Regions from separate parts of the Homo sapiens genome. Here all the other regions are linked to region 3. Evidence: fine-mapped expression QTL. A gene starts in region 3. Each other region holds a variant in brackets. All regions are shown on one strand. Distances are from middle to middle. Region 1 overlaps AHDC1 (AT-hook DNA binding motif containing 1). Region 2 overlaps LOC101928391 (a long non-coding RNA gene). Region 3 holds the start of TRNP1 (TMF1 regulated nuclear protein 1).

Evidence for each region.
Region 1: its variant is fine-mapped to the expression of TRNP1 in tibial artery (GTEx, PIP 0.98).
Region 2: its variant is fine-mapped to the expression of TRNP1 in whole blood (INTERVAL, PIP above 0.99).

Annotation. Positions count from the first base shown.
Region 1 is chr1:27,555,360-27,565,801 of GRCh38, reverse strand. It overlaps AHDC1 (AT-hook DNA binding motif containing 1), which reads left to right. Exons shown (of 9, transcript NM_001371928.1): 4 at 6,919-7,096; 5 at 7,272-7,497. Among named protein-coding and RNA genes, the nearest start is that of AHDC1, 44 kb to the left of the region's middle. RefSeq lists enhancers at 2,201-2,928, 8,231-8,320, 9,832-10,387. The variant C/A (reference allele first, on the strand shown) is at 5,248.
Region 2 is chr1:27,063,005-27,073,446 of GRCh38, reverse strand. LOC101928391 (a long non-coding RNA gene) reads right to left here. Exons shown (of 8, transcript XR_007065559.1): 8 at 7,862-9,835. Among named protein-coding and RNA genes, the nearest start is that of TENT5B, 55 kb to the right of the region's middle. The variant C/T (reference allele first, on the strand shown) is at 5,630.
Region 3 is chr1:26,986,698-26,997,067 of GRCh38, reverse strand. It overlaps TRNP1 (TMF1 regulated nuclear protein 1), which reads right to left and starts at 3,376. Exons shown (of 2, transcript NM_001013642.3): 1 at 2,456-3,376. The coding sequence starts at 3,281. The coding sequence ends at 2,598. RefSeq lists silencers at 3,044-3,103, 3,134-3,463 and enhancers at 2,879-3,379, 3,604-3,763, 3,517-4,016, 4,017-4,518, 6,096-6,390.

The sequences.
Region 1 (10,442 bases), 570 kb before region 3:
CTAAACTGGCCCAAGAAGCTCTCTAGAGAACAGGCCTCACTGATTCTTGGGATTTGTCCCTTCCCTTGCTAAAATGATGGCAAGTTCAGACTGTGCCTCAGTTTCCCCAGATGGTATAGGGATACTATCCTTGCTTCATGTCTGACTTCTTTAAAGTGCTTTGAGTTCCTGGAACAAACTCAAAGTTATGAGGAACAAGGAAAGACTAGAGTGACTCCCGCCCCTTGCTCACCAGCGCCGGGGGACACCAGACAGAATGTTTGTCCAGGGCATGGGTGGAATCAGGGTCCTGTCTCCTTAAGGGTTGGGTGGAGGACAGTGCCTCGCCTCCCTTCAAGACTGGCAGCCCCTGCTGTCTGGCCCGCCCTCCCAGTCTGGGCAGTGGCCTCTGTCCTTCCTCTCTCGCCCCTCTTCATGGAATGAGCTTGGAGTCGTGGGCAAACAGGCCCTGGGGTAGGGGAGTCAGGCCTCACCTCTGGGTGTGGTGAGGCCTGGTCAGGCAGACCGTTCTAGGATCCTGGGGTCTGGGCACTACTCACCAAGGGGCCAGGCGGGGGAGTAGGGGTGCCTGGGGGAGGCAGGTTGCACGCAAGGCATGCTGGGCCCCCTCGGCGGGTGGGTGGGGGGAACAAAGCTGGCATCGAGGCCTCAGCTAAAATTAGCCGCTTCCCTGCGCGGGAGCGAGCATGCCTGCCAGCCGCCCAGATCGCCGCTGCCTCGGCAGGCCATCTGTCGCCACGCTTTACTCAGTCCCCCAGGGCCCCCCAGCTCCAGCCACCCCCAGGGGCTAGGGGGACTCTGCTCTGAGGCTGTCCGTGGCCAGGACTCTAGGCTCTTGTGCTGTCGTGCTGTGTGACCTCAGGCTAGGCCTTTCCCTCTCTGGGCTCCTGTAAAACGAGGGGCCCTAGACACTGACATCTCAGGTCCTCTAGTCCTTCCAAGCACCAGGTGCTGCTGCTGGTCATGATGGGGTGGGAGGTGGGGTGCCTCCCTCCCCTTAGAGCCACTCCTCTTGTCCAAGCTTTGGGCCAAGTGGGGTTTAGGGTAAAGGTAGGGCATGGTGGACTCCTATCAGATTCATTGGTCTTCATCGGGCGGCAGGGAGGCACTGCATCCAACAACACCCCAACATCTCCCCTGTCCCCCTCCACACTTGACCTCCAAGCAGTCTTAAAGAAACAGCTCCAGGTGGGGAGCCAGGAGATGGAGGCTGAGTTCAGCTGATCCTAATTTGCTCTGTGGCTTGGGCAAGTCTCTTAGTCTATTTCTCCCTCTCTTCAATCAGAAGCTTCCCATTTCTTGAGGAGCGGCCCACTTTATGCTACCTTGTCTCATGAGGCTGGCACTCTTGTCCCTTTTGTACAGATGAGGAAGATGAGGTTCCTTGTGAGGAAGCAGGGGAGCAGGGGAGGCGGGCTGGAGCCCTCTGTGGCCTGAAGTTCTGCCTGCTGGTCTCCAGCTTCAGCTTCTTCTTTCTGACCCTGGCACTTCTCTCACTGCGGCCCCTTCCCCCCTCCCCGAAGCCAAAGAGGCTGAGCTGCTGCTCCAAGGTCACCCAGCTTGGCCCTGGAGGAGCTCAGACTGGAACCCAGGCCTCTTGGCTCTTGGCCTCCCTCACCACTATGGCCAGCAGGCTGGGCCTGTTCCCTGGGTGAGTCATGTTCCTGGACTTTGGCCTCCTTGTCCCCAGCTCTGTGGCCTGAAGTTTGGAGAGGGGGCCTTTGTAAGGAAGAAGGGCTCCCCTGGAAGCTATGGGGGTCTCAAGCCATTATCCCATACTCTTCCCACTGAGCACATGGTGATAGCAACCCCTAACCGCCCTACTCCCCACTGATCTCTAAGCAGTCTCATAGTAACAGCGCCTCAGGACAGCCCTCCCTCCACCACTCATTCAGCCCCCTCCCTAGATACACAACTACAGTGAATAAGAAATGGAGTGGAGTGAGGGCTGGGGGAGGTGGCATTTCCAGGTAGTCAGTGTGTCCAGGCAGCTTCCTCCCCAGCACTCCTCTCCCCCAGCACCCGCCACTGGGCGGGAAGCCACAGCACCTCCCCTCCTGGTGTCCAGAGGCCAAGGTCACACCAGAGCCCTGTGTGCCTTCACCTCCTCTGGGGCCAGTGGTGTTTGTCACTGGGGCAATGTGTGGCTGTGCCCGGCTCTGGCAGTGCTGGGGTGACATTCATGCCGTGTGAGCTGTGACGCCTCTGCAGGCAGAGGGACGGCACCACCCAGGCTGGTGACAGTGATGGGGGAGGGGTGAGGTGGGCTGTCACCTGTCCAAGGCAGCCGGGGAGGTGACATGTTGTGTACCCATCCCACAGTCTGCAGGGAGGATTCCCAGGCAGGGGCGAGGTTATGTCCCTGCCTCATGCTGTGTGGTGGGTGGAGGGGTCCATGCCTTCCTCACACCTGGAAGATGGGACTTGTCCCACGTGTGTGTGTGTGTGTGTGTGTGTCTTGGTCAGCTGTGTGACAGGTTCTGTGTGTGTGTGCATGTGTGTGTGTCTTGGTCAACTATGTGACAGGTTCTTTGTGTGGGTGTGTGCATGCATGCGTGCGTGTGTGTGTGTCTTGGTCAGCTGTGTGACAGGTTCTGTGTGTGTGTGCATGTGTGTGTGTCTTGGTCAACTATGTGACAGGTTCTTTGTGTGGGTGTGTGCATGCATGCGTGCGTGCGTGTGTGTGTGTCTTGGTCAGCTGTGTAACAGGTTCTCTGTGCATTAGTGGGTGTGGGGGTGCCTGGTTGCGTGTCAGTTATGCCACTGTGAGGGGTAACAGACGCCTGCCCCATGCTGTCGAGGGTGTGTCAGGTGTGCCCATCTCATGTTTGGAGGAAGCGACAGGTTATGTGCTTAGTTCATCCCGTTAGGAGGGTTGTCACCAACTTGTGCGCCTGTCTCTGGCTGTTGTGTGTGTGAGATGTCACCATGTGCCCGTCGCAGGCTGTTGTGGGGAGTGGCATGTGTGATTCTCTCATGCTGTTGGGAAGTTGTCAGTAACTTGGGAGCTCGTGTCTCACTCTAAAGAGACGACATGTTTTCTGGTGATACGGGGCTGGCAGCTGGTGGGGCCTTCCCATGCAGACCACAGAGCCCCAAAGGGCTGGCCAGAGGAAATGCTTAGGGCCCTGAGCAGAGGGACAAGTGGGAGCTGGGGGGTGCTCAGTCCCGCATGATCTACCCTCTCACCCATATGTCAGCCCGTGGGACTGTTCCCCAGGGGGAGGGACCCAGCATTCTTCAGATGGTGTGGAGAAGGGCCTTTAGGGCCAGGGCAGGTGTGTGTCTGTGAGGTGGGGCACCAAGGCAGGGTTTGCATGGGAGGCAGGGGGCTGTGTCCCTGAGGGCCTGGGGACCCTATTTCCTGCCTCTCCTGCCCCTGAAACTGTTAAACTAATTAAGGCTCTGGAGCCACAGGATTAATCGGGGCAGCTCTGCGCGGGCCGGGAGCTCAGGTAGTCAGTCGATCAGTGCACCGGGGAGGATATTGGATTTCTGAACCGCAAGTCAGCACTATTCGGGCCTGTTATCTCTCCCAGGCTCGGGGGTCAGGAGGCGGGAGGCTTGGCGCACTGGCCGCCCCCGCCGAGCCAGCTTGGGCGCGTCCACTCCCCCTGCCCACACATCCCAGCTCTGGCCTGTCTACTGCCCACACAGGCCTCCCCTCGGCCCTTCTCCCCGGCCCACCCTGCCTCTGCTTCGCTGCCTCTTTCTCAGGCTCCTGCAGAAACCCCTGGTCCCTGCTCTCTCCTGCCTTTCCCATCTCTGCCTGGCTCGCTTCCCCCGTGCCTCTCTCCCCTCTGGGGCTCTTCCTTGGTCCTTACTGGCCTCAGACTCACTCTGGGCCTGAGCTACCCCCTCCCCTCAGCCTCTGACAAGGTCTCACCCGCCTCTCTCTACCTTCCTCTCCATCTCCCTTCTTCCATGAGCCCCTCATCACCAGTCCGTCTCTGCTTTTGTGTTTGTGCGTGCCCGTCTTCCAGTTTCTGTCTTTCTCTGTCTCTCTGTCTCTGTTTCTCTCCCCATGTCTCTGTGTCTCCCTGTGTATCTTTCTCCCTCTTCCTCTCTGTCTTTTCCTCTCTCCCTCTGGCACGCTCTCTCTCTCTGTCTTTTCCTCTCTCTCTCTTGTGTGGTCTCGGCTGGTGTCTGCAACCAGAACAAATCTCCCCCAGCCAACACCCCCTGAACAAGGAGGCCAGAGCAGCTAATGGGAAACATGTGATTCTGCCTTGCGCCTGGAGCACCGTGAAGGGAGCCTTAGTCCCAGCCCAGCCCCTGCACCCCTCCTTGCTGTGTTCCCCCCACCACACTGTCCTCTGCCTCCCAGCAGCTCCCCCAGCCTGTGTGGGCACTGTTGGAAGTTCATTTACACTGGGTGGGGGCCTGACGTTTATCTGCTGGGGAGTATCAGGTTGTGGAGGGGCTAAGGGCAGCTTTGCTCCTGAAGTTCCCCCCCAACACTCAGGGCCAGGCAGACCCCATGCAGACTCCTCCCACCCACCACCACCATATGTAGGAGAACAGGGCCAAGATGAGCCGAGCTGTGGGGGCCTGAATGGGGGGCAGCCAATCTACCCCCACTGGAGGGCTCTAGGGCCACCCAGATTTCCATCTTTTCCTTCCTCCTGGGCCTCTGGGGAGCTGCAAAGGTGGGGGCTCCCCAAGGGCTTGGGAGCTGCCGGGCTGTGTTTCTGTGCCCACCCAACCACAGGGAAAGGGGGGACAGATCAGAGGAGGGAGGCTCTGGCAGGTTGGAATTCTCCTTCTCTGCCTGTGGATAAATTGTCCCTAATCCAGGCTTGGGGAGTTGTCTGGCTCCTACAGAGAGAGAGAGAGAGGAAGGGAGGGAGAGGGAGGGAAGAGGGAAGCAGGCACACACAAACACAGTGACACAGACACACACACACCGTCTCACAAAGGGTATCTCACATGCATGCACACACGCACTCACACACTGAGCCCTTCACAAAGGTACCACACAAACCCTGGGGCACCGTTGTGCTGACACACCATGGCACACAGACCTGCTCACACATGTTGACGCTGACACACGGCCATACTGGCACAATCATACAGTGACATAGCACAAGGACCCACTGACATACACAGAGACACGCTGTGGTACACAGACACACAATAAGGTCACACAAATCCACACATGCATGGACACACACACGAGCACATACTGACCCATGGTGAAAGAGACCCACAGGGACACTGTGGCCAGTCACACTGCCACACCATGAC[C/A]CTGAAAACCCAGAGAAAGGCAGAGGTGGGAGGGAGGCAACACTGATCCACAGTGACACCAGTGCCTGCAGTCACAGGCCTCGAGATTGGAAACCTGCAGGGACAGCAGAGGATCAGCCTCACGCCCCCACCCCCTGCCAAACACACATCCAGAGAGCTCTGAGACAGGCAGGAGCCGGTTTGGCTCCTGACACAGCGAGATGCAGAGAGCCAGGCAAAGCGTGTGCACACCCAGGCATGCTCACACCCAGCCACAGCTGGGCTCACCTGGCTACACACAGGCACACATGCACCCCTGTGTCCTCACACACAAACAGGCTTAGCTAGACTCACACACACACACACACACACACAAAACGAATAGAAATAAACGTGAAAAGTGCACATACCCACATGTATGACTGAAGACACCAAATCCAGGCACACACTTAAGCTGGCATCACACATACACACACACAGCTGACCACAGCAGCCACAACTGAGCAAACGCGTGATCCCACACATGGACACGCTTAAGCCCACATGTACCCACACAGACGTACAGAAATACAGAGAAGCACACGAACAGGCTAAATAGACCCAGGAACCCACATACAGGTATATTTACCCAGACAGCTGAGCCTTGACAGATATGCATTTGCACAGGCAGAATCTCGATCACACGCATACAAACTCCCAGGCAACCAGAACCTATAAGCAATCCGTGAGGCCTGGTTCCCAGACCCCCTCTGGGCTCCAGTACAGACCTCGAGGAGGCAGACAAATGGGCAGGAAGCAGGGGGGTGGTGAGGAGGGCCATGGTTATTAAAGAAAACAAGAGACATAACTAGTTACTGATGGAAATGGGTAAACGCCAGCTGCATATACACCCTTGTGGAAATTCGCATCCACCATCACTCTGAACAGCACCTCTCACATCTGCATTGTCAGTAACCTGTTTGCATTATAGTTTCCCCAGATGTTCCTCCCCATTCATAAGATCTCACTTTTCCTATTTTATACATGAGAAAACTGAGAGCCAGAAAAGTTAACTGACTTGCCCAGAGTCACACAGTTATGAAGGTTGAGCCAAGGACTGTCAGACTCCCAAAGGCCAGGTTCCTTCCACTATAGTATATGTGCATGTATATGCATGTGTGTACATAGATGTGCAAAAACATTGCTTCTCAGTAGGAGCCTGGGGTTTCAAGAAACAGGTTTGGCTGGTGCAGTGGCTCATACCTGCAATCCCAGCACTTTGGGAGGCTGAGGCTGGAGGATTGCTTGAGCCCAGGAGTTCGAGACCAGCCTGGGCAAGATGGTGAGACCCTGTCCCTACAAAAAATTTAAAAAAAAAATAGCCAGGCATGGTGGTGCATACCTGTAGCCCCAGCTACTCGGGAGGCTGAGGTGGGAGGATCACTTGAGCCCAGGAATTCAAGGAGGCAGTGAGCTATGATCATGCCACTGCACTCCAACCTGGGCCACAAAACGAGATGAGGCCCTGTCTCTCTTATTTTTTTTTTTAAAAAGAGTCTCACAGTTCCCAGGTGGGATAATGCGATGAGGTTGGAGGTGGATGGGACTCCATGTAGGAGAGCTTCCTGGCTCAGTGTCCGCCTGCACCCTGCTGTCTGGCTGGCTTACCCTGTGTCCATGCTTATCTCTGTGGTGCTGTGTTTGCTTCCACAGATGGGAGCTTGCCTGATTGTCAACCCATCGGCCTGGACCCCAGAGCCCACCCAGTTGAGCGTGTGCAGAGGGCCCCGAGTGCGGGGCGACGCTCAGGCCGTTGCAGAGACCACCCTGGAGATGCTGATGAAGACAGGCCTTTCCTGCTGAGCCCAGCCTATCTTCGCAGCCTGCTCAGGTAACAGTGTGCAGGGAAGTCAGGCTTGGGCCTGGGCCACCCCCAGGAAGTGGGGATCAGGGGAACTTGCCTCCCAGTCCCAACAGGGATCCCCTCCCAGCTTAGGTCAAAAAGAGCTTCTTTACAGAATCAAAACATATTAACCCAACATTTACTCAAACTCCCCATTATCCAGAAAGGGGAACTGAGGCTCATGGATATACAGTGAGTCCTACCTCCTAGCCTGAGGACTCTTCCCTGCGCCTTGATGACCTGAGAGAACTGGGAGGAGAAAGGGGTTGTGACAATGACCAGGACTCAGGGCAGAGGTGGAAACCAGAGTGCCTGATGTGTGCAGCTGCTGACCCCCCCAGGACACCTCTCTACCGGAGTCTGTGGAAGCAGAGAACTGGGAGGCCAAGGTGAGGTGCTGGGAGGGCCTGGGTAGCCCAGGTATGCTAAGGTGCCCTTGCAGGACAGGGAGGGGGCGGGGGCAGTGGCAGGACCCACCTCCCTACTCCTGGCCCAGGTTAGCCCACCCAGGCTCAGGAGCTGCAGAGCCAGGTGAAGCTGCCCTGCCCTGCAGAGGCAACTCCCTGAACTGACACATGAAGCCTGCGGCTCCAGGAAGCTCCCTAGAGCTGAGCCTGCCTGGGGACCCCACCCTACTTCCAAAGGAGCATTCCTGGGGCCTGAGGTCTGGGGGTGGAGTCTCCTGGGATTGTAAGGGTGGGGAGGTACAGCTGTGGGAGGATGCGAGGCTGTGTGTATCCGAATGTAAATGTACAGGGCACTCAAGCTTGTGTGCAAGCAGGTGTGTGTGGAAGGCTCTGTCCTTCCGTGCACATGGGGTAATATACAAGAGTTGTGTAAGTGGACTGGGCTGGGGAGCGTTCAAGGGCTGTGTATGTGGTACCCGGAAGTATGAATATGCAGGATTCTGGGTGTGTACTGGGCAGGTGTGGGGATACTGTGTGTGCCACACTGGATGTCATGTGTGCAAGGGTGCTAGTGTACACTGGAGAGATGTGTGTATAGACAAGATCTGAATACACTGCGATGGTACGGTGTATGCACACGGGGATCTGTGTGTACACTGGCTAAGTGTGTGCTCAGGGTTCTGGGTGCACAGTGGGAGTGATGTGCACATGTGGCTCCATTTGTGCTTTGGAGGTGGGTTGGGCAAGCCTTGAGCTGAGCTGGGCTCAGCAGTGCCCAGCCTTGTGGCCAAATTGCTGAAGTCACTTCCTTTCCAGCAGCAACTTTCCAGGAGGAGGAGTTCTTCAGACCTGGGCGGGGAGCGGGGGGGCGTGGAACAAGGAGCTCTCTGGGGAAGGAGGTGGGCGGGGGTGAGAGGCTGCAGGGAAGGCCTAGTGGGGCTGGAGGAGGGGAGTCCTCCGGGAGACAGAAGGAAAGACAAGGACGGGAGTCTGGAAGGGCCAAGGGCAGGAGGGGAGGGGGGCGGAGCAGGGCGGGAAGCTTAGTCCCTGGGTGACCTCGGAGGGAGGAAGGGAGGGCCGCCGGCAGGGTGACCCTCGGGTCCAGCCAGAGCTGGCGGTGGCGCCCACACACCTGGCACCCAGGGCAGGGGGCTGGCAGGGGGCGGTTCTGGGGCAGACCTGCTTGCCAGGTGCCCTGTTCCAGGGAGGAAGGGGGTGGGCGAGGGTTGCACAAAGGAGCTCTGTGTGGCTGGGGGTAGGGTGGGGTGGGGTGTGCACTGCTGTGCTGTGCTGTGGGGGGGCCCTGATGGCCCCAGGGGGCGGGGCAGGGCCAGCTCCCCTTGGGGGCATCAGTGGCTCCAAGGGGACACCTAGTGGCGAGGGAGAGTAGTGCATCTAGTTGGATGGCTGTTGGTGGGAGGTGGTGACTAGAAGCTGAGAGGAGGATAGATTAGAAGTCAAAAATTAGAACTGATGGTTGGGACTAGGACCGTTGTAGGAGGCTGCAGGGGAGGGCGCTGAATCTCTGGACACCAAAGAAGTTTGATTTACAGAAGCCCAACCTAAATTCAGACACCAGCTTAATTGAATGAGATGGCTGTTTGTTCTTAAGGGCATAACTTAACCTCTCTGTGCCTCTATTTAAATGATGCCAAATGAGTGACAGCTGCCATTATTATTGCCATCATTGTTATTTGTATTATGATATTGTGCCTGGGATCAGGTTGAAAGAAGATATTCAGGTGTTACTGTGTGGGCAGGTAGGCGGCTGAAGGGAAGGAGGTGGACAGAGGTGATGACTAGTCCCTGAGGGACAGATCCTGAGAGATAAGGCCCCTGGAGGAAAAGGGAGGTGATGGGAAGGTCTCAGAGCAGCAGTAATGGCCCCTTTGATGCAGTGTTTTCCATTTGAGGACATCCCAGGGCCTTCGAACCAGGCTGGGAGGGAAATGGTGGGGGAGGAGGAGTGTGCAAGCTGGAGAGAGGGTCATGAGGCCGGAAGTGAGAGCTGGGGCTGGCAGCCTGGCTCCCCTGGGGAGGCAGTGGGTGGGGGAGGGGAAGGAGGGCTGGGGAAGGGGTGGGGTGGTCACAGCCACAGCCGGGGAGGGTGGGGCTGGGGACTCAAGGATGTGGGCTGGCGCTTCCCGGCACTGTGCACAGCAGGTTGGGGCCCCCAGCCCCCTCCCAACCAGCTGGTGTCCCTATGGGCAAGCTCAGACACACTGACCCAACAGCAGACAGGCAGACAGAAGTACCCCTTTGACTTTGTCCACAGACCAGGGCTAGGTGGTACCCTTGGGAGGGGTCCAAGAGAATGGCCGCCGGGGTGTGGTGAGGAGGGGAGCCAGCTGTTTCCCTCAGATCCTGGAGGCTGCAAAAGAGAGCAGTGGCCAGCCTCAGGAGGCCTGGCAGGAGGACGTGCCCAGAGGTCTTCACGGGTGGGTTGAACAGAAGCCACCACCGGAGAGGAGGTTTTTCTCTTCTGCCAAGATCACACCCTCAGGCCCCAGCTGGGAGGTCTCCAGGGCGGGGAAGGCTCGGCTAGCCTGACCCTCAGTAAGGGAGGGAGGGAGGGGGCTTCTGGTGGGCATCTCCAAGTGGGTGCCAGGAGCCACGGCCCAACCACACTGTTGGAAATTGGACTTGGAGGTTCCAGAGTCTGAGCCCCTTTTCTCGTTTGTGAGGGTGTCACCCACTGTCCTCCCTGTGAGGGCAACAGTGCTCCAAGTTCTTGGACTAGAGAGATCCTGACCTGGGAGGGGCCAGGTCCACAGCCAGGCCTGGGAGAGAGCAAAGTAGGTGGGACCAGTAGGTGGGACAACGAGGAGCAGCTGAGTCCTGGAGCCTGCAGAGAGAGAAGGAACAGTGGATAGAGGGATGTTCCACCTGGGTGGGCAACCAAAGGGCCCCTTCCTGTGCCATTTTGT
Region 2 (10,442 bases), 76 kb before region 3:
GGATTATAGGCGAGAGCCACTGTGTCTGGCCTGGCCCACTGTTTCACACCTCTGCAGCCTTCACAGAAGCATGAGCTTCTCGGCAGGAGGCAATGTCCTGTAGGACACCCAACAGGTGCCCTTCAGTGAGACCCTGATTGGAAGTGCAGAGGGAGGATGGAAACGCAAGTCCAGCTCGACAACAAGGATCCATCGAAGGAGGACAAATTGCTGTCTTCCATGAAGGAAAATGTTTGTGTAACCAGGCAGTCACCAGCTGGCTGGCTGAGCCACAAGGGCTCAGGTGTGGCCACTCAGAGGTGATGGCAACCAGGTTGGCTTTGGTGAGGGAAGGTCGTACTGGAGAAGCTGGGCAAAACCTCCATGCCTGCCCCCATACCTGCCCCCATGCCTGCCTCCTTACCTGCCTCCATGCCTGCCTCCTTACCTGCCCCCATGCCTGCCCCCATACCTGCCTCCATACCTGCCTCCATGCCTGCCCCCCATGCCTGCCTCCATGCCTGCCTCCGTGCCTGCCCCCATACCTGCCTCCGTGCCTGCCCCCATACCTGCCTCCATGCCTGCCCCCATGCCTGCCCCCATGCCTGCCCCCATACCTGCCTCCGTGCCTGCCTCCGTGCCTGCCCCCGTACCTGCCCCCGTACCTGCCCCCATGCCTGCCCCCATGCCTGCCTCCATGCCTGCCTCCATACCTGCCTCCATACCTGCCTCCGTGCCTGCCCCCTTGCCTGCCCCCTTGCCTGCCCCCGTGCCTGCCCTCATGCCTTCACCCATACCTGCTTCCATGGCCACTTTGTTCGTGGCCCCATTGATTCGTTTCTTGACCAGCTGTGGCTTATGGGAGACTCACAGAACCCAGGACTTCACCACGTAACAGTATGTTCTCCTCTTGGGAAGCAGATGGAATTAACAAACGGTAACTATTAAGCAAGTTACACCAGGAGATAAATTACATATATTGCAACAAGGGGAAAGAAAACATGTGATGTTTGCAAAATTCTTAAGGGAATTTATCCTTGTCCTGGAAAAAAAAAAAAAAAAGCTGGCTTGCTGGTCAACATTTCTATTCGAAAATTAAGGCTCATCGTGCTTCAAGTAAGGTAAGGAAGTCTGGGATGTCACCCTGGATGCCACCTCAAATGAGGTAGAGTCACAAACTAGTGGTGACTAGTTCTGTCCCCAGGGAATAATGATCACATGTTGATTGGCATTATTAGAGCAGGATAATGGACCAGGAAAAACCCTGTAAATGGTCTGTATCCTCTTTTTATTATTATTATTTTATTTTTTTATTTTTTTGAGAAAGTCTTGCTCTGTCACCCAGGCTGGAGTGCAGTGGTGCAATCTCGGCTCACTGCAACCTCCGCCTCCCGAGTTCAAGCGATTCTCCTGCATCCACCTCCTGAGTAGCTGGGATTACAGGCGTGCACTACCACGCTCGGCTAATTTTTGTATTTTTACTAGACACGGGGTTTTGCCATGTTAGCCAGGCTGGTCTCAAACTCCTGACCTCAGGTGATCCACCGGCCTTGGCCTACCAAAGTGCTGGGATTACAGACGTGAGCCACCGCGCCCAGCGTGTATCTCTTATTCTAAAATTTAAGTCTCATTGCAATTGGAAGTATCAAAGGTAAGGCTACATGTGGTTGGGACATCTTCTTGAATTTTGTCCAGGTCCTAATAATAGAGAAAGGGAAGATGGTGACACCCACAGGTGTCACCTGACTGTTAAAAGCCTCTTTTGAGGGGGAGGGCTTTGGTAAACAGTCACTCGGGTCAAGCATTCTCTTGTAATCTGGGCCGTTTCTGAGAGTCCCACCACATAGTTGCTGACCCAGTGCCTCTGTTTCACCAACTTCCCCATCACCCCCTCCCAAGACTGGCCCACCCGGCAAGACCACCAGCCACTGCCCCGGCTGAAGTAGAGCCAGACCTTGGGCCACCTTTCCTTTCACACAAAGTGCAGCTCTTCATACAGGACCCCACGTGCCTGTCAGTGCTTCTGCCCAGGAGCTCCAGTCTTCACCAGTCTTTCTGCTTGCATCTACCCTGGACTGCTGCAGGCACGGGAAGGGCCTCTCCTCCCTCTTGCTGGTGGAGACAGGCAGCAGTGCCTCCGCAACTCATTTCAGGCTGGGGCTGGCTGCTGCGGAACCATCTGTTCCCAGGCTGTGGAGAGAGCTCAGAGTTGTCTGAGGAATGACCTCGAAGGCTCATCCTGGGTTGCCTGGCAACCAGCAAGCTGGGACCAGTGGCTCCCTGTCCATACAGGAGGGGCAGTGCCTGAACTCAGCTTCCCACGGAGGGAGTTGGGAGCCGAGGGAGATGGGAGTGCAGTGCCTCCGTACAGGCCCACGCTCCACCACACAGCTGGCACAAGCTCAAAATATTCATGCCCCACCCCATTGCCTAAGGTCATTCTCACACCCAGCCATGACAAGGGAGAACGTAGAGGGGCTTGCATCCCTGTGCTCCCTGATGCCTCCAGCCTCACACTGGACGCCATGTGCCTGTCACCGCTTCTGCCCAGGAGATCCAGTCTTCACCAATCTTTCTGCTGGCATCCACCCAGGCTGTCTGCCTGGCTCATGCTCGAGTGTTCAGTTGGTCTTAGGGACCTGTGCCCAAGGTATGGGCGGACGCAGGGGCTTTGGGAAGCTGGAGAAGGGACTCTGGGGAAGGAGCTGCCTGCTGAGAGGCTCAGCTGGGCTTCAGGACATGCCTGCGCTCAGCCCTCACCCACGTGTACTTTCTCCCCTTGATGACAGAAACCGTTGGGCACACCTGACTTTGTGGCAAGGTCAGACAGTGCTCAGCTCTGGTCACATGGTCCCCAGGTGCCGCAAGTCAGGTGTTCCATCTCCCCAGGGCCCAGGAGCTTACCAAAGGCATGAGCTGTTTCTCAGGAGAACCATGGTTTACAGAAGGGGGCGCAGCTTTGCACTAAAATCCTGGCTCCTGAGCTGAGATTGGCTTCCTGGGGCTGGTCCCAGGCTCCATAAGGGTAGCTCGATGTGCTGTAGACACTGGTAGCCTCAGATGATTCCAGCAAGCTTTGGAGTGAGCGCTGTGTGTGAGGGCAGGGTTACGAAGGCTGGGTCATCCTCACCATCCAGGGCCCTGGGGACAGGGCTACCTCCTCAGGGAGGGCTGCCCAGAGCCTGCCTCAGGGGATGGACACAGATGACCTGAGGCCCTGGGTGCTTGACCCCTGCCCTCCACCCTCACTGCCTCCCCCAAGTCCCCTGATCTCCACCTGCCTTCAGTTCACCCAAGGGTTCGGAATGGACTCCTGATTTTCTTAAGAGTTACATGAGGACACAGAATGAAGCCCTGTGGTCTCCAACTTGAGTGTGCCTTGAAGTCCTCTGCATGGAGAACGTGGTTAAAGGAGAACTGCCCAGGTCCCAGCTCTAGAGAGTCTAATTCAGCAGAGCTGAGTGGTATACCAGAATAGACATTTTATTTTATTTATTTTTTTTAGAGACAGGGTCTACTTCTGTCACCCAGGCTGGAATGCAGTGGCACTCACTTCAACCCCAAACTCCTGGGCTCAAGTGATCCTCCTGCCTCAGCCTCCCGAGTAGCTGGGACTGTAGAGAGGTGTGCGCCACCATGCCTAGCTAATTAAAAAATTTGTGTAGGGGCTGGACATAGTGGCTTACTCCTGTAATCCCAGCACTCTGGGAGGCCAAAGCAGACAGATCACTTGAGGTCAGGAGTTCGAGACCAGCCTGGCCAACATGGTGAAACCCCGTCTCTACTAAAAATACAAAAAAAGGCTGGGCGCAGTGGTTCATGCCTGTAATCCCAGCACTTTGGGAGACCGAGGTGGGTGGATCACGAGGTCAGGAGATCAAGACCAGCCTGGCCAAGATGGTGAAACCTCATCACTACTAAAAATACAAAAATTAGCTGGGCGTGGTGGCGGGTGTCTATAATCCCAGCTACTTGGGAGGCTGAGGCAGAGAACTGCTTGAACCCAGGAGGTGAAGGTTGTAGTGAGCCGAGATCACGCCACTGCACTCCAGCCTGGACGACAGAGCAAGACTCCGTCTCAAAAAAAACAAATGAACAACAACGAAAAAAAGTAGCCAAGCATGTGGTGGCGTGCATCTGTAATCATAGCTACTTGGGAGGCTGAGGCAGGAGAATCACTTGAACCTGGGAGGTGGAGATTGCAGTGAGCTGAGATGGCGCCACTGCACTCCAGCCTGGGCGACAGCCAGACTCTGTCTTAAAAAAAAAAAAAAATTCTTTTGTAGAGATGGGATCTTGCTATGTTGCCCAGCCTGGTCTCAAACTGCCAGGCTCAAGTGAGCCTCCCTCCTCAGCCTCCCAAAGTGCTAGGATGATAGATGTGAGCCACTGCACCTGGCCTATAATCTGTGTTTTAAACACGCTTCTCACCGTGATTCTGATTCAGGTAGTCACCCATCAACACTTTAAGAAACACTGGTGGAGTTTCTCAGGGTCAGGCAAGCCTGGGTCTAAATCCAAGTTCTACTCCAGCATTAATCTGGATTCATTTCAGCTACGAATGATGGATACCTGAATAACAGAAGCCTAAATGTGATAGAATTTTGTTGCTCTCATTTAAATTTTATTCTCTCTAGGAATACAGTCCAGGCTGGCACAGTGATGCCACAATCATTAGGGACCTAGACTTTTTCTGTCTTGTTGCTCCCAAATTCTCTGCATTTGTCTTTTGTCTCATGGCCCAAAATAGCTGCTCCAGCTCGAGCCATCATGCCTACATTTCATGCAGCAGGAAAGAAGAAAGGGGAGGAGAAAGACACATTGCCTCCGTTTAAGGGCAGTTCTTGAAAGTTGCATATGCCACTTCTACGTGCCAGAACTTAGTTATTTTGGCTAGAGCTACTGCAAGGGAGGTGGGAAAATGTAGAGATGTATTTAATTTTTTGTAAATAGTGACTTAAGGCACACAAAGAGTGTCTAAAGAAGCTGAAACAGGCTGGGCACAGTGGCTCACACCTGTAATCCCAGCACTTCGGGAGGCCGAGGCAGGTGGATCACCTGAGGTCAGGAGTTCGAGACCAGCTTGACCAACAGGGTGAAACCCCGTCTCTACTAAAAATACAAAAATTAGCCAGGCGTGGTGGCTAACGCCTGTAATCCCAGCCACTTGGGAGGCTGAGGCAGGAGAATCGCTTGAACCCGGGAGGCGGAGGTTGCAGTGAGCCGAGATCGTGCCATTGTACTCCAGCCTGGGCAACAAGAGCGAAACTCTGTCTCAAAAAAAAAGAAAGGCCAGGTGCGGTAGCTCACGCCTGTAATGCCAGCACTTTGGGAAACCGAGGCAGACGGATCACGAGGTCAGGAGATCGAGACCATCCTGGCTAACACGGTGAAACCCCATCTCTACTAAAAATACAAAAAAATTAGCCGGGCATGGTGATGGGCACCTGTAGTCCCAGCTACTCGGGTGGCTGAGGCAGCCGAATGGCGTGAACCCGGGAGGCGGAGCTTGCAGTGAGCCGAGATGGCGCCACTGCACTCCAGCCTGGGTGACAGAGCAAGACTCCGTCTCAAAAAAAAAAAAAAAAAAGGAAGCTGAAACAGAGAAAAACAGAGAAACAGAGAGAGGGAGAAGATGGTGCAAGCTAAA[C/T]ATAAAATCGGCTAACCTCAGTTGTGTACTTCCTGAGTGCCAGTTACAGTTCTAAGCCTAATTCCTCCCACAGTTCTGTGAGGTTGGACCTACTATTTTTTTTTTTTTTTTTTTTGAGATGGAGTCTCGCTGTATCACCCAGGCTGGAGTACAGTGGCGCGATCTCAGCTCACTGCAACCTCTGCCTCCCTGGTTCAAGCAATTCTCCTGCCTTAGCCTCCTGAGTAGTTGGGGTTACAGGCATGCGCCACCACAACCAGCTAGTTTTTTGTATTTTTAGTAGAGACAGGGTTTCGCCCTGTTGGTCAGGCTGGTCTTGAACTCTTGACCTCGTGGTCTGCCCACCTCGGCCTCCCAAAGTGCTGGGATTACAGGCATGAGCCACCGTGCCCAGCCTGGTCCTACTATTTCTTATCTTCTGGAACAGGGACACACACAACCCACCCCTGAACCCAAACTACACAGATTGAAACATGAGCTTTGCCTGCTTACTACCTGCATGACTCTGAGCAAGTTCTTTGCTAATGAAAGGGAATGTGGTGGGGCGCGGTGGCTCACACCTGTAATCTCAGCTCTTTGGGAGGCTGAGGCTGGCAGATCACTTGAGGTCAAGAGTTCGAGACCAGCCTGGTCAACATGGTGAAACCCCATCCCTACTAAAAATACAAAAATTAGCCGGGTGTGGTAGTGGGCACCTGTAATCCCAGCTACTCGGGAGGCTGAGGTGGGAGAATTGTTTGAACCCAGGAGACGGAGGTTTCAGTGAGTCAAGATCATACCACTGCACTGCAGCCTGGGCAACAGAGTGAGACTGTCTCAAAACAAACAAACGAAAATAAAAAAGGAATGGAAGCCATATTTAATTAGGACCAAACAAAATTCACCCCCTCCACCTGGGGATGTTGCCCCAACACCTTCACAGAGTCAGGCCTCTGCCAGCCAGGAGGAGGGGGCACACTCTGCCATGTCTATAAACTGGGTGTCGGCAGGGGTGCTCACGGGACTGAGGCAAGTTTTCCTCAAGCCCCATCCCATGCCCTGGGTCATGCGAAGCCCTCCCTCCATCCTCTGTACACTCCAGAGATTTTTGTTCTCAGGGAACTTCTAACTCTGGCTTCTTGTTCTGCTGAATTCTTAAGTCTGTGTGTGTTTGGAGCCTCGAGGTGCAATTGCTGGGCTCTGGCACTGCCAGTGGGTCTGCTTCTGACACAGTGCCGGGTACCACGAGGATGTTCAGTAAATGCTTGTTGAATTAATAATGACAACCATTATTTAATAAGTGCTTACCATGTGCCAGGCACCATGCTAAGGACTTTACATATATTCTGCCATTTGACCCTGACAACTGCCAAGATCTTCATTGTACCCACAAAGAAACTAAGACTCGGGCTGAATGTTGTGGCTCATGCCTGTAATCCCAGCACTTTGAGAAGCTGAGGCAGGAGGATCTCTTGAGGCCTGGAGTTTGAGACCAGCCTGGGCAACATAGTGAGATTCTGTCTCTACAAAAAAAAAAATTTTTTTAATTAGCCAGGCATAGGCATGGTGGCATGAACCTATAGTCCCAGCTACTTGGGAGGCTGAGGCGGGAGGATTACTTGAGTCCAGGAGTTCTAAGTTACAGTGAGTTATGATCATGCAACTGCAATCTAGCCTGGGCAACAGAGCGAGACCCCATCTCTAAACAAAAATAAATGGAGACTCACAAAGCTTAGGTACTTGCCAAAGGTCTCATAGCTGGTAAGTGTCAGAGCAGGAATTTGAATATGCAAATTTTTTTTTTTTTTTTTTTTTTTTTTTGCCCAGGTTGGAGTGCATTGGCGCCATCTCGGCTCACTGCAACCTCCTCATCCTGGGTTCAAGCGATTCTCCTGCCTCATCCTCCTGAGTAGCTGAGATTATAGGCTCATGCCACCATGCCCAGCTAATTTTTGTATTTTTAGTAGAGATGGGGTTTCACCATGTTGGTCAGGCTGGTCTTGAACTCCTGACCTTGTGATCCGTCCGCCTCAGCCCCCCAGAGTGCTGGGATTATAGGCGTGAGCCACTGCACCCGGCCTACAAATTCTTAACCATAATTATCAGGTGTCTACATCCCTCAAATGACCACCCCTCCCACCCCACTCATACTGCAACAGATCCAGGAGCCTAGGGTCCCAAGAAGGGCAGAGCCTATCTAAGGTGACGGCTCTGTGGGCTGACACCACAAGAATGAGTTTGTTTGTTTTTTTTTTTTTTTTCAGTGCCTTTATTTTTTATTTATTTTTTTTTTTTTTATTGATCATTCTTGGGTGTTTCTCGCAGAGGGGGATTTGGCAGGGTCATAGGACAATAGTGGAGGGAAGGTCAGCAGATAAACAAGTGAACAAAGGTCTCTGGTTTTCCTAGGCAGAGGACCCTGCGGCCTTCCGCAGTGTTTGTGTCCCTGGGTACTTAAGATTAGGGAGTGGTGATGACTCTTAACGAGCATGCTGCCTTCAAGCATCTGTTTAACAAAGCACATCTTGCACCGCCCTTAATCCATTTAACCCTGAGTGGACACAGCACATGTTTCAGAGAGCACAGGGTTGGGGATAAGGTCACAGATCAACAGGATCCCAAGGCAGAAGAATTTTTCTTAGTACAGAACAAAATGAAAAGTCTCCCATGTCTACTTCTATCCACACAGACCCGGCAACCATCCGATTTCTCAATCTTTTCCCCACCCTTCCCGCCTTTCTATTCCACAAAACCGCCATTGTCATCATGGCCCATCCCCAATGAGCCGCTGGGCACACCTCCCAGACGGGGTTGTGGCCGGGCAGAGGGGCTCCTCACTTCCCAGTAGGGGCGGCCGGGCAGAAGCGCCCCTCACCTCCCGGATGGGGCGGCTGGCCGGGCGGGGGGCTGTCCCCCCCACCTCCCTCCCGGACGGGGCGGCTGGCCAGGCAGAGGGGCTCCTCACTTCCCAGTAGGGGCGGCCGGGCAGAGGCGCCCCTCACCTCCTGGATAGGGCGGCCGGCCGGGCGGGGGGCTGTCCCCCCCACCTCCCTCCCGGACGGGGCGGCTGGCCGGGCAGAGGGGTCCTCACTTCCCAGTAGGGGCGGCCGGGCAGAGGCGCCCCTCACCTCCCGGACGGGGCGGCCGGCCGGAAGGGGGGCTGACCCCCCCACCTCCCTCCCGGACGGGGCGGCTGGCCGACCCCCCCCCGCCTCCCTCCCGGACGGGGCGGCTGGCCGGGCAGAGGGGCTCCTCACTTCCCAGTAGGGGCGGCCGGGCAGAGGCGCCCCTCACCTCCCGGACAGGGCGGCTGGCCAGGCGGGGGGCTGATCCCCCCACCTCCCTCCCGGACGGGGCGGCTGGCCGGGCGGGGGGCTGACCCCCCCCCCCTTCCGGACGGGGCGGCTGGCCGGGCGGGGGGCTGACCCCCTCACCTCCCTCCTGGACGGGGCGACTGGCCGGGCAGAGGGGCTCCTCACTTCCCAGTAGGGGCGGCCGGGCAGAGGAGCCCCTCACCTCCCGGACGGGGCGGCTGGCCGGGCGGGGGGCTGACCCCCCCCACCTCCCTCCCGGACGGGGTGGCTGCCGGGCGGAGACGCTCCTCACTTCCCAGACAGGGTGGTTGCCGGACGGAGGGGCTCCTCACTTCTCAGACGGGGCGGTTGCCAGGCAGAGGGTTTCCTCACTTCTCAGACGGAGCGGCCGGGCAGAGACGCTCCTCACCTCCCAGACAGGGTTGCGGCCCAGCAGAGGCGCTCCTCACATCCCAGACAGGGCGGCGGGGCAGAGGCGCTCCCCACATCTCAGACGATGGGCGGCCGGGCAGAGACGCTCCTCACTTCCTAGATGGGATGGCGGCGGGGAAGAGGCGCTCCTCGCTTCCTAGATGGGATGGCGGCCGGGCAGAGACACTCCTCACCCTCCAGACTGGGCAGCCAGGCAGAGGGGCTCCTCATATCCCAGACGATGGGCGGCCAAGCAGAGACGCTCCTCACTTCCCAGACGGGGTGGCGGCCGGGCAGAGGCTGCAATCTCGGCTCTTCGGGAGGCCAAGGCAGGCGGCTGGGAGGTGGTTGTAGCGAGCCGAGATCACGCCACTGCACTCCAGCCTGGGCACCATTGAGCACCGAGTGAACGAGACTCCATCTGCAATCCCGGCACCTCGGGAGGCCGAGGCCGGCGGATCACTCGCGGTCAGGAGCGGAGACCAGCCCGGCGAAACCCCGTCTCCACCAAAAAAAAACGAAAACCAGTCAGGCGTGGCACTGGGCAGGCTGAGGCAGGAGAATCAGGCAGGGAGGCTGCAGCGAGCCGAGATGGCAGCAGTACCGTCCAGCCTCGGCTCGGCATCAGAGGGAGACCGTGGAGGGAGAGGGAGAGGGAGAGGGAGAGGGAGAGGGACGAGTTTGTTTTTTTTTGAGAGGAGTCTCGCTCTGTCACCCAGGCTGGAGTGCAGAGGCGCGATCTCAGCTCACTGCAACCTCTGCCTCCCGGGTTCAAGTGATTCTCCTGCCTCAGCCTCCCGAGTAGCTGGGATTACAGGCACCCACCACCACACTCGGCTAATTTTTGTATTTTTAGAATAGATGGAGTTTCACCATGTTAGCCAGGCTGGTTTTGAACTCCTGACCTCAAGTGATCGGCCCACCTCAGCCTCCCAAAGTGCCAGGATTATAGGCATGAGCCACCGCACCTGGCCAAGAAAGGGTTTTTGTTTAGGCTTCAAACAACTGCAGGACATTTCTGTCCAATATCTTCTATTTCCTGCCCCCAGCTCCCCAACACCCACTTCTCCACCAGCAATTCTGCACAGCAGAGAATGGAGGCCACTTCC
Region 3 (10,370 bases):
ACCGCACCCAGCCTGAATAAAGCCAGACGGGTGAGCTTCTAGAGGGGGCCCTGGAGGGTCAGGCAGGTGTGGGAGGTGCCTTTTGTTAGTTGGCTATGTGGTAATGGACATAGCACTAACTAGGAGCTGGGGTTCAAGTCTACATGTGTGTGCCCTGGCCAGGAAGCTTGATGAGGAGCAGTGGGACATCTGGAAGTGGAGGGAGGGGGCAGAGCTGCCTGTGACACCAGGACCAATCTCCATTTACTACCCTCTACTTCACACACACACACACACTAGCCAGTGTCGTCTCTAATTCTCTACTCACCCACCCCACCCCCAAATCGGGACAAGCTGATTACAAATAAATCCTGGAGAAAGCCAAAACTGTGATGGCACCGAGCACTTTACACCATTAGCTAAAAGCTTCTCCGGACCAAGTGCCCCCTCCCATGCAACCCAGAAAACAAATGGTCCTGGCTGCAGCCCAGCACCAAGGCCTGAGCTCAGCTCTTTCCAAGATGTCCTGTCCTCTCTAAGCCTCTAGACCCCAAATGACCCAAGTGGCTTTGGAAGGTGTTCCCTGTTTGGAAAGACCAGAGGATGGCATTGCCCCCTTCATTACTTCCCTGGGGTTCCCTAACTTTGTCAGAGGCTCTGAGACTCCCTCCTGAACCTCCCTTCCCCAGCTAAGAAAGGGTTCAGGAAAGCCTTGCTGTTAGCCGAGAAACCAGCCAAAAAGTTTGGTATCCAGGGAGAAGGGCTGATGAGGGAGGATCCCATAAGGGCCCCAAGCCTCAGCCTATCAGAGCAGTGCACCTGACCCTCCCAGATTCCTGTGGAAGGAAGCATCCTCCCCACTTCACCCCATTCCCAAGCCCTGACTCAAGGAGGGACTGAGGAAAGAGGCCCAGAGAGGGGGCAGAGTTGTTCTAAGTCACAGAGCAGACAGGATCCAGAGGACAACTCTCCCTAGCCCCTGCCCAGGGTACTGTGGGAGGTGCACACACAGGCCAGGGACCTTGATTCTTCCCTCACTGGCATGTGACCTTGAGAAATCCCCTCTCCACCCTGCAAAAGTAGGACTTTAAATTAGCTCATGGCTCTATCAGCAAAAGCAGTGCCTGTTTCCAGGTGTGAGTTAAAATAATACATTATCAGCCAGGTGCAGTGGCTCACACCTGTAATCCCAACACTTTGGGAGGCCGAAGCGGACAGATCACCGGAGGTCGGGAGTTCAAGAACAGCCTGACCAACATGGAGAAACCCGGTCTCTACCAAAAATACAAAATGAGATGGGCATAGTGGCACATGCCTGTAATCCCAGCTACTTGGGAGGCTGAGGCAGGAGAATCGCTTGAATCCGGGAGGTGGAGGTTGCAGTGAGCCAAGATCGCACCATTGCACTTCAGCCTGGGCAACAAGAGCGAAACACTGTCTCAAAACAAACAACAACAACAAAAAAATTATCTTTCCATGATTTAGTGAGGAAGAAGAAGGACCTCTGCCCTGGGTTAACGTCACCACAGCCCCTCTGGGAGGTTAAGAGATCCACTTCGCAGACTGATAAGTGAGAGTGAAATTAACTCAGCTGGTGAGCAGCAATGTGGTAGCCAGGTCATTCACAGTGGGGACAGAGGAATGGGAGACTGAAGGGCATCTGGACAGGAAGAGAAGCAGATCTCACCTCAGATCTGGCTCTTTAAGGCCCCCCTTTCTGGAAGCTGATACCACACCTGCCCCCTTGGGGCCTGTTAAAGGGTATCACCTGGTTCCAACCTGGCCGAGCCATCTTAGTAACAGGTTGGGAGTTAAGCCTCTAGGTTCTGCTATGTAAGGATCCCTGGGTGAGCAGGTGCCAGACATCCTGTCCTGGTTATGTGAGTCAGGCTGTAATTTTTGCGAACCTGCATGACGGCATAAGAAAAGCTGTCTCCTAGAAGAAGAAGGGCCTAAGTATGAAGAGAACAAATCCTAAACCTCTCTGGGATTCCGTCTCCCCAAAGGTGAAACAGGCCTAGAGGGGGAATTCAGTGGTACAGCCCTGTGCCAGCCTCCACCCCATCCTGGGGCCTCATTATTCTGTCCTCCCGAAGGCACGGAGCTGGGCGGCGCCAGGAAGCAGCATCCTCAAGGGCAAGACTGCTCACAGCTCCGAGGGGCCCGGGAAAGGCCACGCAAGTGGGGGTGAGGATGGGGGGTGCTGCATCCGTGCGGCAGGTTCCAAGTGGTAAAAGTTTGCCGCCAACCCGTTCCTGGGATCTGAGCCCCCTCAAGAGTCCAACTCTTATAATGGAGACTTGATGCTACCACCTCTCACTCTCCAGATGGTCGGGAGAGGCGGCAACAGAAAGTGGCAGCTTTACTAGGGACCCAGCAGACGCCAGAAGCTCCAGGGAAGGGAGTTCCCGGGCCCTGGACCAGCCCCCCACACGCCATGACCGACCCTCGAACGCACCAGCCGCTAAGACCGCACCTCAGCCTCCTCTACTGGGCCCCTGGCCCCCAACTGCCTCTTCCTGCGGATCCGTAGTCCTTCCAGCCGGCGTCCGCGATCAGTCGGTCGGTCGGCACCTCGGCGAAGCTTGTCGGGGTGGCCAGGGGTCCGGGCGTGGAGGTCAGCGCTGCGGGGAGGCGGGGCCGCGGGGCGGGCTGCGGCGGAAGGGCGAGTCGGGCTCGGGGCCGTGGCCGCGCCGCAGTCGCCCGGCACCCCAGGGCACGCAGCCGCCCAGGCCCAGCGCCGAGGCCAGCAGCGCGGGGGGTCGGCCGCGGCGGCCGCGGCGCGGGCCCTTCTTGAGGCGCGACCCGTGAGCCGCCAGGTAGAGCTCGGCCTGCGCCACGCCGCCGCTCAGGCGGCTCAGGCTCTCCGCGCGGTGCGCCAGGCGCAGCTCGGCCGCCAAGAAAACGCGGTGCAGCTGCAGCACGCGGCTCTCCAGCTCCGACACCAGGCGCCGGCGGCCCTCCACCTCCAGCAGCCGCCGCCGTGCTTCGGCCAGCTCCAGCGCGCGGCCCCCCGCCCCCGCAGCCGCGCCAGAGCCCCCTCCGGGGCCGGCGAGCCCCGCGATCCCGCTAGCGCCCTGGCGCCAGCGCTGCAGCTCCTGGTCCTCGGCCGCGCCTGCTGAAGCCCCAGCTGCGTCCGGCAGCGGCGGGGACTGACCCGGGGTCGGGGTAGGAGTCAAGGTCGGAGTTGGGGGCGGGGGCTGAGAGGACGGCATGGGATCCCAGGGCGGCGGCGGCGACCTCTGCTCTGCCGTCCCCTCCTGGGCCCCCGGGCCGCAGGCGCTGATGCGGCAGCCCGGCATCCCCCGCCCCCCACCGGCGGTCTGCGGCTGTAGGTGCGCAGGGAGGATGACCACAGCACACCCGAACAGCTAGACACGGCCACAGCCCCCACCCCAGAGGCGCGCCCGCCGTCCGCGCATCTTATAGAACACGGGGCGGAGCGACGGGCGGCACAGCCAATCAGAGACAGGCACGCCCTGAATCCGCCCCGCCCCCCCCCCCCCCCCCCGCGCTCTGCACATTCAGGGCATTCCCCAAACCCTTCAGGTCCTGCCCTTCGCCGGATTCTGCTCCGCTAGGGCATCCGGTCCCCTTTCGCCTCTCCCCAAATTTTGGGTGCAAAGGGAGCCTCATCTTCCCTGGTTTGGCCCCTCAGAGTCATAAGCTCTGGTAGCTGGTGTTTAGAAATTCACGGAATCCGGTCTCCATCCGGGGGAGGGTCTTGCCTAAGGCCTCTGTGCGAAGAGAGCCTGGGCTAGAACGCAGGAGGCTTGACTCCTTGTGCCGTGCTCCTCCCACACCTCATGCTGCCCTTGGCCGAATCAGTTCTGCCCGGTCTCTCCTGGGCCATAGGGCTCTCAAGGACCCCCTTTCCCACCTCACTAGGGCAGTGGAAGGGTTAACGCAGAGGGGCGACTGCCGTCCTGGTGGGACGGGGATCTAGCTGGACTGATTCCACGATAGGTAGAGCGCTTTATTCGCAGAACAAATACCTCAGCGCTGCCGCTGAGCCTGCAAACCTTGGTGGCATCACAGAGGAGCCCCGGACCCCACGGTGTGCAAAGTTCTTTCCCTGCCCCGGCTCGTGTTTACTCCTCCCAGCCGGTGTTCCTACACATTTTAAAGAGGGGGAAACTGGCCGGGCGCGGTGGCTCACGCCTGTAATCCCAGCACTTTGGGAGGTCAAGGCGGTCGGATCACCTGAGGCCAGGAGTTCAAGACCAGCCTGAGCAACATGGCGAAACCCCATCTTTACTAAAAATAGAAAAAAATTAGCCGGTCGTCGTGGTAGGCGCCTGTAATCCCAACTACTCGGTAGGCTGAGGCAGGAGAATCGCTTGAACCTGGGAGGCGGAGGCTACAGTGAGCCAAGATCGCGCCATTGAACTCCAGCCTGGGCGACAGAGCAAGACTCCGTCTCAAAAAAAAAAAAAAAAAAAAGCCGGGGGCGGGAAGGGGGAAGGGGGGTGTGCGGGGGCGGGGAACTGACTGGCGGGGCGCGGTGGCTCCGCCACCACTTTGCGAGCCCGAGGTGGGTGGATCACCTAAGGTCAGGAGTTCTAGACCAGCCTGGCCAACATGGTGAAACCCCTGTCTCTACTGAAAATACAAAAAAATTAGCCAGGTGTGGTGGCGCACCTCTGTAGTTCCAGCTACTCAGCAGGCTGAGGGAGGAGAATCGCTTGAATTCGGGAGGCAGAGGTTGCAGTGAGCAGAGATTGTGCCACTGTACTCCAGCCTGGGCGACAGAGCAAGACTCAGTCTCAAAAAATAAATAAAAATAAAAAATAAAGAAGGGGAAACTGAGACCCTGAAGGGCAGTAGTGCTTTGCCCAATGTCTTATTGACGACTGGTGGCTGAATCCAGATTTTTGAATCTGGACAGAAATGCACGAGCTCAGCCATTCATGCCCTCTGGGGGCTCAGATACCTGGGTCTAGTCCTCTTGGTGGAGGGACGTTCTTTATGTGGGACTTTATCTGACACTTCTCATCTGGCCCTGACAAAATGATAGAATGGAACCCTGCCCACTTTTCCCCCAACAGAAATGACCCTGCCATACCAAACACTGGCTCAGACACCATGGGCCTGCCTCAGTTTCCATCTACTTGAAGGTGGCATCAGAGATGGGAGGTCTCTGTGGTGGGTGGGGGCAAGGGCCAGGGGTCCAGAAACCAGCTCTGAACCCGATTGGGAAGGACTGCAGCAGACCCTGGGCTCAGGAGGACCTGCGGAAGGTATGGCCAGTGTGACTGCTGAAGCCTGAAGAGGAGGCAGATGGCGTGCTTGCATGATGTGCAGGATGATGATAGAGCCTCATCCTCCCCCCATGAACACATGTTCTCTAACTGCTTTCAGGTGTCTTAGAGTGAGTGAGACTGAGTGATGGGGACTCGTGGGCGAGACAGTTGGGCTCCAAAGAGGCAGCTCAGAAGCGGCTGGGAGAGGAAGGCGGGTGGGTGAGAGGCGCCAGGCTCAGTGAAGAGGAAGGGTGGAGGGGTTGGGGGAGGGAGGAGGTCAGAAGCAGGGTGCCCAGTGACCAGGGGTGGTGGAGACTCAGTGAGGGGAAGGGGAGGGCTTGGGAGGATGACTCAGTCAGAGGGGAAGAAGAGCTGTTCAGTGACTGTGCTGGGGCTCAGTAGGGGGAAGGGGCTGAGTGTGTGCAAAGGTGCTGGCGGAGGCTCGCCATGGGGGAAGGGAGGTTCAGTGAGGGGCATGGGAACTCAGAGAGTTGGAGGGGCTCAGTGAAGATGAGGGAGGCTCAGGAGCTACCAGGTTGCCCCCAGCAAGGAGGCTTGCCCTGCTGAATGATGGTGTCCCTTTGAACAGTCTCTTTTGTGTCATGCAATCATAGGTCTTTCTCAGGGCAGAAGCCCCTCATTGCCATGGTGGTGGGGAGATGGACAGGTGTTTTGCCTTCATGAGGCAGATCACTGCTCCCAACTCCTCAAGGACTGATTCAGGGGAAGAAGACTAGGACTTATCTCCACCCCCAACCACTGGCCAGATCCAGAGAACCAGTCAGACCCGGGTTGAAAACCAACACACACTGCCCATCTGGGTGACCTTGGGCAAGTAATTTATCTGAGTGGGAGAAGATGCACAGTATATATTTATTGAAGGAATGAATGTTCTCTGTCTCGTGATATCATCCCTAAGAAAGGGAGATTGATAGCCGTCTCTTCCTGATGAGAAACCAAAGTCCAGAGAAGTGAAGAGGCTTGCCCAAGTTCACACAGCAGGTAAATGGCCAAGCAAGAATTCAAACACAGATATGACCCACTCCGTGGTCACTCCTTACCTCCCTGTTCTCTGACAATGCTCCCTGTTGCTATCCTCTGTGGTATTTCCTATGAGTCATATGTATGTATTTGTTTATTGTTTAATTATTAATAGTCTCTCCCCCTTGACTGGTTTTGCTTATCACTAGAATCCCCTGAAGTCAAGCAGAGTGCCTGGCCCCATAAAGCACTCAATAAACATTTGTCTGAATTGAAAAATTTAGGCCGTGCACAGTGGCTCACGCCTGTAATCCCAGCACTTTGGGAGGCTGAGGCAGATGGATCACCTGAGATCAGGAGTTCAAGACCAGCCTGGCCAATGTGGTGAAACCCCATCTCTACTAAAAATACAAAAATATGGCCAGGGACGGTGGCTCACACCTGTAATCCTAGCACTTTGGGAGGCCGAGGTGGGTGGATGATGAGGCCAAGAGATCAAGACCATCCTGGCCAACATGATGAAACCCCACCTCTACTAAAAATACAAAAAATTAGCTGGGCGTGGTGGGGCAAGCCTGTAGTCCTGACTTCTCAGGAGGCTGAGGCAGGAGAATCGCTTGAACCCGGGAGGCGGAGGTTGTAGTGAGCTGAGATCATGGCACTGCACTCCAGCCTGGCGACAGAGCGAGACTCCATCTCAATAAATAAATAAATAAATACAAATACAAATACAAAAATTAGCCAGGCGTGGTGGTGCACATCTGTAATCCCAGCTACTCAGGAGGCTGAGGCAGGAGAATTGCTTGAACCTGGGAGGCAGAGGTTGCAGTGAGCTGAGATTGCGCTACTGCACTCCAGCCTCGGCAACAGGAGCAAGACACCATATCAAAAAAAAAAAGAAAGAGAGAGAGAGAGAGAGACGGGGGTGGGGGGAGACAGAGAGAGAGAGAGAGAGAGAGAGAGAGAGGAGAGAAGAGGAGAAGAGAAGAGAAAAGAAAAGAAAAGAAAAGAAAAATTAACCGGGTGTAGTGGTGCATGCCCATAATTCCAGCTACTCGGGAGGCTGAAGCAGAATCACTTGAACCCAGGAGGCGGAGATTGCAGTGAACCAAGATCACACCACTGCACTCCAGTTTGGGCAACAGAGCAAGACTCCATTAAAAGAAGAAAGAAAGAAAGAAGGAAGGAAGGAAGGAAGGAAGGAAGGAAGGAAGGAAGGAAAGAGAGAGAGAGAGAGAGAAGGTAGGAAAGAAGGAAGGAAGGAAGGAAGAAAAATAAAAATAACACAAGGGTAGGCCGGGTGCGGTGGCTCACTTCTGTATTCCCAGCACTTTGGGAGGCAGAGGCGGGTGGATCACGAGGTCAGGAGTTCAAGATCAGCCTGGCCAAGATGGTGAAACATCTCTACTAAAAATACAAAAAAGTTACCCGGGCATGGTGGCGGGTACCTGTAATCCCAGCTACTGGGGAGGCTGAGACAGAGAATTGCTTGCACCCAGGAGGGAGAGGTTGCAATGAGCTGAGATTGCGCCACTGCACTCCAGTCTGGGCAACAGAGAGAGACTCCGTCTCAAAAAAAAGAAAGAAAGAAAGAAAAGAAAACACAAGGGTAGAGCTTGCTGAGAATGGAGAGTTCCCTTCTCCATTCATTCATTTATTCTTTTTTATTTTATTTATTTATTTATTTATTTATTTATTTTTTCTGAGACGGAGTCTTGCTCTTGTTGCCCAGGCTGGAGGGCAGTGGTGCAATCTCAGCTCATTACAACGTCCGCCTCCCAGATTCAAGCGATTCTCCTGCCTCAGCCTCCCGCATAGCTGGGATTACAGGCATGAGCCACCACGCCTGGCTAATTTTGTATTTTTAGTACAGACAGGGTTTCTCCAGGTTGATCAGGCTGGTCTCGAACTCCCAACCTCCAGCGATCCGCCCGCCTCTGCCTCCCAAAGTGCTGGGATTACAGGCGTCAGCCACTGTGCCCAGCTTCTTGTCAGCTTTCTTAACTGGCCTGAGCACCACACTCTCGGAGTGGATAGGAGCCACAGTCTACCACCTATTAGTGCACATCCAGCCCAGCAAACACAACACCTGGAATGAAGAAATCCATCCATAACTGTAATGATTATTGTGTTTTTCTGATCTTTATAAAAGTTATAGAGTACATTCCTTTTGTAGAAAATCTGGAAGACAGATAAAATACTAAAATACTGAAAAAGAATAGGCTGTCAGGCAAGGTGGCTTATGCCTGTAATCCCAGCACTTTGGGAGACTGAGGCAGGAGGATCACTTGAGCAACTAGGAGTTCAAGACCAGCCTGGGCAATATGGTGAGACCTCATCTCTATGAAAAATAAAAATAAATTACCTGGGCATGGTGGTGCATGCCTGTAGTCCCAGCTATTCAGGAGGTTGAGGTGGGAGGATCGCTTGAGCCCAGGAAGTCGAGGCTGCAGTGAGCTGTCTCTTGCCACTGCACTCCAGCCTGGGTGACAGAGCAAGACCTCATCTCAAAAAATAAAAATAATAGGCCAAGCACAGTGGTTCGTGCCTATAATCCTGTACTTTGGGAGGCCAAGATGGGAGGATTGCTTCAGTCCAGGAGTTTGAGACCAGCCTGGGCAACATAGCAAGACTCTCTGTCTCTATGAAAAATTTAAAAAATTAGCCAGATTTGGTGGTGCACGCCTGTAGCTACATGGGAGGCTGAGGCAGGAGGACCCCTTGAGCCCAGGAGTTTGAGGCTGCAGTGAGCAGCGTCTGCACCACTGTACTCTGGCCTGGGAGACACAGAAAGACCCTCTCTCTCTCTTTTTTTTTTTTTTTTTTTTGAGATGGAGTCTCACTGTGTCACCCAGGCTGGAGTGCAATGGTGCGATCTCAACTCACTGCAACCTCCGCCTCCCAGGTTCAAGCAATTCTCCTGCCTCAGCCTCCTGAGCAGCTGGGATTACAGGCGCCCGCCACGACACCTGGCTAATTTTTGTATTCTTAGTATTCACCCAGCCGACCCTGTATCTTTAAAAAAAAAAAAAGAAAGAAAACAAGAAGAAGAAGAAAAGAAAAAGCCTGGGCGTGGTGGCTCACGCCTGTAATCCCAGCACTTTGGGAGGCCGAAGCAGGTGGATCACTTGAGGTCAGGAGGTCAAAACCAGCCTGACCAACATGGTGAAACACCATCTGTACTAAAAATACAAAATTAGCCAGGTGTGGTGGCGCACGCCTGTAATCTCAACTACTTGGGAGGCTGAGGCAGAATTTCTTGAACCCAGGAGGGAGAGGTTGCAGTGAGCCGAAATCACATCATTGCACTCCAGCCTGGGCAACAAGAGCGAAACTCCATCTCAAAAAAATTTAAAAAAGAAAGAATAGAGGAAAGGAGCCTGAAATCAGAAAGACTTATGTTTGAATCGAAGTTCAGTCCTTTTCTAGCTATGCAACCCTGAGAGAGGCACCTTTGTTCTCTGAACGTCAGGGTTTTCATCTGAGAAGTGGAACGGCTAATATCTATGGCATAGACAAGGACATTGACTCATGCAAGGATATGCCCAAGATCTCACATATCTATGGTCATATCTGGTCGTATCTATCTGACTCAAAACCTGTGGCCTGAGTTTGAGACCCTGAAAGAGAAGAGGCAGCTGAGATGGGACCAGGTTCCAGAGTCTGGTCCAGTATGTATCTATTGCCTCCAGGACAGCAGCCAGAAGAGACAGCCTTGTGGAGGGGACAGTGACTGTGGCTGTGGCCCCAAGCAGGATCCCCAATCCCCTCCATTAGCTGAGAGTGGGGTGGGGAAGGGGTCAAGGCCTGAGGAGTATATGTCCATCCCAGCCTAGAATATTTGAGTCCTCTGCTAAGAGATCCAACCTCTCCCTTTCAGCCTCTCCCTGGCAACCTGGCCTGGCACCCTCTAGGAAGTGATCTCAGTTTAATAATTTAGCAGATGCAGACAAAGATAGCAGCTCCGAAAATAACCCAGTCAGGCCCCAGCCTCCACCTTCCCTTTCCTTAACAGACTCCCCTGCCCTCCCCACAAGGTCTCTGGTTGCCCTACACACCTGTCAGTGTTCCTGCCTGCCAGTGAACACCTGATTCAATGCTTCCTCATTCTTCTTCTCCTCCTTGCTCCTTTCTCTCCATTGTTATATCAAGAGCTTTTATATGGGT